2 linked regions of the Homo sapiens genome follow. The protein of the gene in region 2 purifies or fractionates together with the protein of the main gene of each other region. This does not show direct contact. Each region holds a gene or a part of one and is shown on either strand. Other genes may lie near its edges.

Region 1 (3,500 bases), on a different chromosome or scaffold from region 2:
TTGTTCTTTTTTTGTTTTTGTTTTTTTGAGACAGAGTCTAGCTGTGTTGCCCAGGCTGGAGTGCGGTAGGGAGATCTTGGCTCACTGCCAAGATCAACCTCCTGGGCTCAAACAATCCTCCCACCTCAGTCTCCCAAGTAGCTGGGACCACAGGCGTTTGCCACCGTGCCCAACTAATTTTTGTATTTTTAGTAGAGATGAGGTTTCACCATGTTGCCCAGGCTGGTCTTGAATTCCTGGACTCAAGTGATCCACCTGCCTCAGCCTCCCAAGTGTTCAGATTACAGGCATAAGCCACCATGCCTGGCCTGACTTTATTATTCTTAATATAGTTATTTGTTTGATCAGTTCCCCTCCTGTCATCACCACTGGCCCCTCTCCTATGTGGAGCCTTCCTCACCCTACTTGGACTCTTGACTCCACATGTTACGCTGCTGCCCCAGCGTGGGCGTCTTTCTCACCCCGCACAGACTCTGACATCCCACACTGCTCAACGACCCTACATGGACATCCTCCTCATCCTGCTTGGGCTCTGACACCCTACAGCAGGCCACCCCCTGCCATGAGTGGTCACCCTCCTCACCCTAGTTGGGCCTGTAAACTCCATATTACTTGTCCCCATGCATGGATACCCTTTTCACCCCACATGGCCTCTGACACCCCACCTTGGACAGCCATCTTACAAGGGAGCACTTCTTCCCCTGCTCAGGCCTGCTGGCCCCCAGCATGGATGCTCTTCTTCACTGGTCCTGCTCTGACACCCCCGGGAGCTTCCTGTGCAGGCGTCTTCCTCACCCTGCTTGGGCTTTGACACCCTGCACAGACATCCTTCTCTCCTTCTTCAGGCTCTTTCCTTCTCTGAGCCACCATAGCTTTCTCCTCCACATACCTGATGGCTTTAGTCTGATTTGTTAGGGAAAGGAGGGCTACATAGGCCTGGCCTTGAGTCTTGATTCTTCTGTTTACCAGCAGGGTAATGTTGGCAAGTTGTTGTTCTTCTCTGAGCCTTGATTCTGTCTTTGGAAGATGGAACTGATAATAGCCTCTTTTACAGTGGCATGGCGGGGGGGTACTAAATGCAAAGCACCCAGCTACACAACCATATAAAGGAGGCATTCAACTACTAACCGTTGCCATCTTTTTAATTTTCCCTGGGCTTAGCCTCAACTAAGGCTGCCGAAGCCTTTATCTCTGACTCTTGCCCTTCTGTTAATCTTGCAGGTCTACTTTGAGGATGAGGACAGGGCAGAACTATACCGGGTGCCTGCCAAGAGCACCTTGCTACAGGTTCTACAGCACCAGAGGTGAGTCATCTCATGGCGCTGAGTAGATTGGGGAAGATGCTCAGTGTATTAGTCCATTTTCACACTGCTGATAAAGACATACCTGAGACTGGTCAGTTTATAAAGAAAAGAGGTTTAGTGGAGAACTCACAGTTCCACGTGGCTGGGGATGCCTCACAATCATGGCAGAAGGCAAGGAGGAGCAAGTCACCTCTTACGTGGATGGCGGAAGGCAAAAAGAGAGAGCTTGTGCAGGAAAACTCCCTTTTTTTTTGAGATGGAGTTTTGCTCTTGTCGCCCAGGCTGGAGTGCAATGGTGTGATCTCGGCTCACTGCAACCTCCACCTCCCAGGTTCAAGCAATTCTCCTGCCTCAGCCTCCTGAGTAGTTGGGATTATAGGCACCTGCCACCACGCCCGGCTAACTTTTGTATTTTTAGTAGAGACGGGGTTTCACCATGTTGGCCAGGCTGGTCTTGAACTCCTGACCTCAGGTAATCCACCTGCCTTGGCCTCCCAAAGTGCTGGGATTACAGGCATGAGCCACCACTCCCGGTCAAAAACTCCCATTTTTCAAAGCATCAGATCTCGTGAGACTTAGTCGCTATCACGAGAACAGCACAGGCAAGACATACCCCCATGATTCAGTCATCTCCCACCGGGTCCCTCCCACAACACATGGGAATCATGGGAGCTACAAGATGAGATTTGGTTGGGGATACAGAGCCAAACCATATCACTCAGGCACCATCCGAGGAGTAGAGCCAGGTTCTCATTCCGCTGCTGACTGATTGCCTCATACTCCCCTCCCTTCTGCCCTGAGCACAGAGCTGTGTGAGACAGCAGCCATGGAGACTGGCCGGGCCCATAAAACTCAGCCATTGGTCAAACAGGCTCCAGTGTGATGATAGCCCACTGCACCACAGCCATAACACTCCAGACCAGGGGAGATAAATAGGACTGGTCTTTGAAGGGAAAAGCTGCCTGGCTTTTTGTACATGAAGGCTGCTAGGATGGCCTTTTTTTTTTTTTTGAGACGACATCTCGCTCTGTCACCCAGGCTGGAGTGCAGTGGTGCGATCTTGGCTCACTGCAACCTCTACCTCACCCCCCAGGTTGAAGTGATTCTCCTGCCTCAGCTTCCTGAGTAGCTGGGATTACAGGCGCCTGCCACCATGCCTGGCTAATTTTTGTATTTTTAGTAGAGACGGGGTTTCACCATGTTGTCCAGGCTGGTCTCAAACTCCTGACCTCAGGTGATCCACTCACCTCGGTCTTCCAAAGTGCTGGGATTACAGGCGAGCCACTGCACCCGGCCAGCCTTCCTTTTCCTAATCGTACCTATACCTATGTCTCCTGATGCTCTTTCTTTTGTTTGCTTTTTCTTATTTTGAATTTTTTTTTTTTTAAATAGAGATGGGGTTTTACCATGTTGGCCAGGCTGGTCTTGAACTCCTGGGCTCAAGCAATCCACCCACCTCAGCCTCCGAAAGTGCTGAGATTACAGATGTGAGCCACCACACCCAGCCCCTAAAATTTTTTTTTAAATTATTTTTATAATAGAGACAGGGTATCTTCTCCAGGCTGGTCTTGAACTGGGTTCAAGCAGTCCTCCTGCCTCACCCTCCCAGGTAGCTGGAATATCAAGTGCATGCCAGTGACCCGGCTCCTGATACTGTCATATGAAGAAAGCATTGGCTCTTGAAGTCAGACCCATCATCATTTACTGGCTGTGTGACTCCAAGCACACGCTGCCTCTCTGGGACTGCCGCCTCATCTCTGGAATGGGAGTAATACATGCCTACACATTTCTCAAGTATTTGAGAGCCAATGACAGGATAGGAGTTGAAGTGCTGTTGTAAACTGCACAGGGCAGTCCTGCTATAGGAGGGCATCTTTGTCATTAGCAGTGGCAGCAAGTTGGATTTGGCAGTTGTCTCAGAGAAGCTGTGAGGTGTTCCTGGACTATAAGGGAAAGCCCTCAGCAGATTTGCAAATTGACTCTTGGACTACTTTTCCTTAAGCTTTGAGCAAAGCAAAGCAGAGAAAAGCAGATGCTTTTGCACTTAAGCTAAAAGAGCCCAATGTATTAGTGTAAAGAGAGTGGTTGGATGTGGTAGGAAATGAGGCTAGAAAGCTAAGTTAGGGCCATACACGAAGGCCTGAATGCCCTGCTAAGGAGCGTAAACTTTATCCTGATTGTGGTGTACACCAGGGT
Region 2 (4,036 bases):
GCCGAGGAAACCTAGTCACTACACATAAAAGAAGCAAAATAAATCATATGGAAATTGGCATTTTGGGAACTTAGATATTCTGTTGAAAGGAAAATAAGGTCCTTTCTCCTCATATTTAATTACTTTCTTATTGTAAATTTTAAATATAAAATTGAAATACACTAATTAAGTCATTTTTAGGAAAATCAAGAAATTCCTGTGATATGAGAACAAATCCAACAAATCTCAAAAGATTTTATTCCCACAGCAGAATGTAAGCTCTATGAGCAGAAATTTTTATCTATTTTATTCATGATTGTGTCCTAAGTGTCTAAAACAATGCCTGACATAAATATTTGTTCATGTTGTGTAATAAATTGGTACTAAAAATATTTGTGTGGGTTACCATTTTTATGAGAAAACAAATCTTCATTCATAACAAATTATAACCCAAATTTTATGTGTGTGTATATATAAACGGACATATAGACATATGGATATACCCTAAATAAGGATATAATAAATCCTTATTTATAATAAATACATTATAACCTAAATGAAGGTATAGTAACATTAACATTTATAGCTACTGTTAAAAGTCAGAAAGTTAAACTAAGTCAACAAGAATGAAAAATAAAGGACAATCACAAGAAAAGGTCACATAAATGTTAGAAGGGAATCCCATAAGTATTAGAAGGATATGTTCAGGATGATACTGTTCTATCTAATCTCCAGCATATGCTTGGCAATAGATGACATTTAAGAATCATTTGTTAAATAAATGAGAGAATGATAACAAGTATTATGAGTTGAACTGCCCCCCGCCCAAATTTTTATGTTTAAGTCCTAACCTATAGTATCTCAGAATGGGATCTTATTTGGAAATAGGGTTGCTGTAGATGTAGTTAGACAAGATGAAATCATACTGAAGTAGTCGCTTATCCAACACAACCGATGTCCTTATAAGAAGGGAAAATCTGGACACAGAAACAAGCACACAGAAAGTGTGCCACGTGAAGATAAAGGCAAGGTTTGGGGTGATGCATCTAAAAGCCAAGAAACACTAAAGAGTGCCAGCAAACCACCAGAAGCCAGGGGAGAGCCCAGAACAGCCTTTACCTCGCAGTTTCCCTAAGACTACCCTGCCAACACCTTGATCTCAGACTTCTAAAATTCAGAAGTGTGAGATAATAAATTTCTGTTGTTTAAGCCACTCAGTTGGTGGTCCTTTGTTAAGGCAGCCATAGTAAACGAATACAGAAAGCTAAAAAGAAAAAGGGAATTAGAAAGATAGGAAAATCCCTAGGCAGATGAAATGCCTAAATGAGTAAGAGTAAAGGGGTAGAACCTGAAGTGGCCAGCTGGGAGAGCTTTATGAAGTCTTATCTAAAGTCTGAATTTTCATTCTCCTCAATTTAAAAATGTTAAATTAACTCCACACCATTCATTCTCAATTTTCCAAATAAAACTGACATCCAAATAGTATACACTATTTTTATCATGTGGCTTCATGTATCTTTGGACACACTGCATCATACTCCAAATATTATAGGTAGCCTACAGTTTACATGAAAAATGAAATTCAAGAAGATTGTCTGTTGATGTTCTCAATGTTATAATTCTTTGTCCATTAGACACCAGTAAGAGACATGGATAATTTCACAACTCTGAAAAGGCTGCAAAGGTGCCTGATACATAGCAATAGCTTGTCTATAGCCATTTGTCCTGGACGTTAAGGTGCAACAGGGTTATCAATTGCCTGTCAAGTTTCAAAGGTCATTTACTAGCTACTCGGAGAGTAAGATAAGAAAATACTGGCCTCTCCTGTCAATTTTATGTACTTCTGAAAGTAAGTCACATTTCTTCTTTGGAAAAACACAAATTCTGCCACAGATGCTTTTATATTTCTTTCTATCAAGGACATAGTAGAAAAAAGTAATTATATTTACCTTCCTCTATTAAAAATAAAATTAAAAAGTTGGGGAAGAAAATATAAAGAAAGCAGAAATGACAAGCTTCATATACTGGCACTAGTAACTATTAAAAGAATCTTTTGTTGACTCAGATCTATTAACGGAAGGAAATATTTATTTCAGCCTCCCCAGAAAGGCTATAAAAAGGCTATAGATTAAGAGCAACAAGAAAGTATAAGTATTATAAAATAAGACAATGGGGCTTATCCATAAAAGATGAAGCCATATTGTTTACCATACGTATAATCTTATGACCATGAGATTCTACACACATAATACATTTTAAAAATTATGCTGTCATATAAAGTGATTTTTAGACTTTTAATAAAAAACAATTCTTTGGGAAGCTAGGCTGCTAATATTCTACATTTTTCTTCCAGAATTTAAGTTCAGTACCTTCTATCTGTGGCACTTCACCATGAAGCTTGGCTTTGCTGGAGAAAGGTGCATTCTGTAGCACTAATGCAAAGAGAGATGGGATCAAGGACTGCAAGGCAGAAAGATACATGTGGAGTTTGTGTTCATCCAGTCCATGTTCTCCTTCCTGAAACATAAGGAGGTGGAAGCTAATTTTAGTCTTTTGAAGTTACATTGCTAATTGGATTTATGTATGATGTTCTTCCTTACTGTGGCAAATCAAAGATTTAAGGACCTTTATGTTGGACTCAAACAAGCAGTAAGGCACTCTAGAGTGGTAGAATCTTTTACATGGAAAACTATAGGGTAAACATCAGTCATTTCCATTTGTAGGGAATAGTTTTTGTAATTTTACTTTTTCATTAGAGAAGGTCTTATCTTTTGAAATTTTATAAGACAGGGTAAAGAAATTAAAGTAAGGGACAGGAATCACTTTATCTTTTTTCTTGTTAGAATTGATACATAAATAATTGTACATATTACGGGGTACCATGAGATATTTTGATACAGGCATACAATGTGTAATGATTGAATCAAGGTATTGAGATATGCATCACCTCGAACGTGTATCATTTCTTTGTGTTAGGAACATTCCAAATTTTCTCTTCTAGCTATTTTTCAAATATATAACACATTATTGTTAACTATGGTCACCCTACTGTGCTATCAAACACTAGAATGTATTTCTTCTATCTAACTGTATTTTTCTGTTCATTACTCCCCCAGACCCCAGCTTCTGGTCCATTTCATTCTTTACCTCCTTGAGATCAACTGTTTAAGCTCCCACATGTGAGTGAGAACATTCAATATTTGTCTTTCTGTGCCTGGTTTATTTCACTTAACATAATGTCCTCTAGGCTACCTGCTGCAGCAAACGACAGGATAGCATTCTTTTTTTAATGGCTGAATAATATTCCATTGTTTATATATACCATATTTTCTTTATCTATTCATCTACTGATGGACACTTAGGTTGATTCTATATCCTGACTATTATGAATAGTGCTGTAAGAAATATGTGAGTGCTTGAAACTCAACATGTAAGTCCTTGAAAGTATATATCTTTTCAATATACTGACTTCCTTTCTTTTAGATATATACCCAGTGGTGGGATTGGTGGATTACAGGTATTTCTGTTTTTAGTTTTGTGAGGAACTTCCACACTGTTTTCCATAGTGGCTGTACTAATTTACATTCCTACCAACAGTGTACGAAGGTTCCCCTTTCTCCACACCTTGACCAGCATCTTTTTTTTTTTTTTTGTCTTTTTAATAATAGTCATTTCAACTGGGGTGACATGATACTTCATTTTGGTTTAGATTTGCATTTACCTGATGATTAGTGATGTTAAACACTTCTTCATATAACTTTTGGCCATATGTCTTCTTTTGAGAAGTGTTTATTCAGATCATTTGCCCATTCCTTAATTGGATTTTTTTTTTTTGCTGTTGAGTTGTTTGAATCCTTACATATTTTGGTTATTAATCCCTTGTTGGATGGAGAGTTTGCAAATATTTTCTCCCATTCTGTAGGCTGTTTGTTCACTCTGCTGATTCCTTTGCTGCGCGGAAGCTTTTTACTTTAATATAATCCCATTTGTCTATTTTTGCTTTGTTGCCTATGCTTTTGAGATCTTTCTTCAAAAATCTTTGCTCAGACCAACGTAC

The links.
Region 1: the proteins of RELCH (region 2) and TTC4 fractionate together in Homo sapiens (co-fractionation; one large-scale study listed by BioGRID). This does not show direct contact.

Annotation. Positions count from the first base shown.
Region 1 is NC_000001.11:54,736,361-54,739,860, forward strand, and holds part of TTC4 (tetratricopeptide repeat protein 4), read left to right. Parts: intron 1-1,221; coding exon 1,222-1,304; intron 1,305-3,500.
Region 2 is NC_000018.10:62,259,971-62,264,006, reverse strand, and holds part of RELCH (RAB11-binding protein RELCH), read right to left. Parts: intron 2,497-4,036; coding exon 2,349-2,496; intron 19-2,348; coding exon 1-18. UniProt on the Homo sapiens protein: Regulates intracellular cholesterol distribution from recycling endosomes to the trans-Golgi network through interactions with RAB11 and OSBP.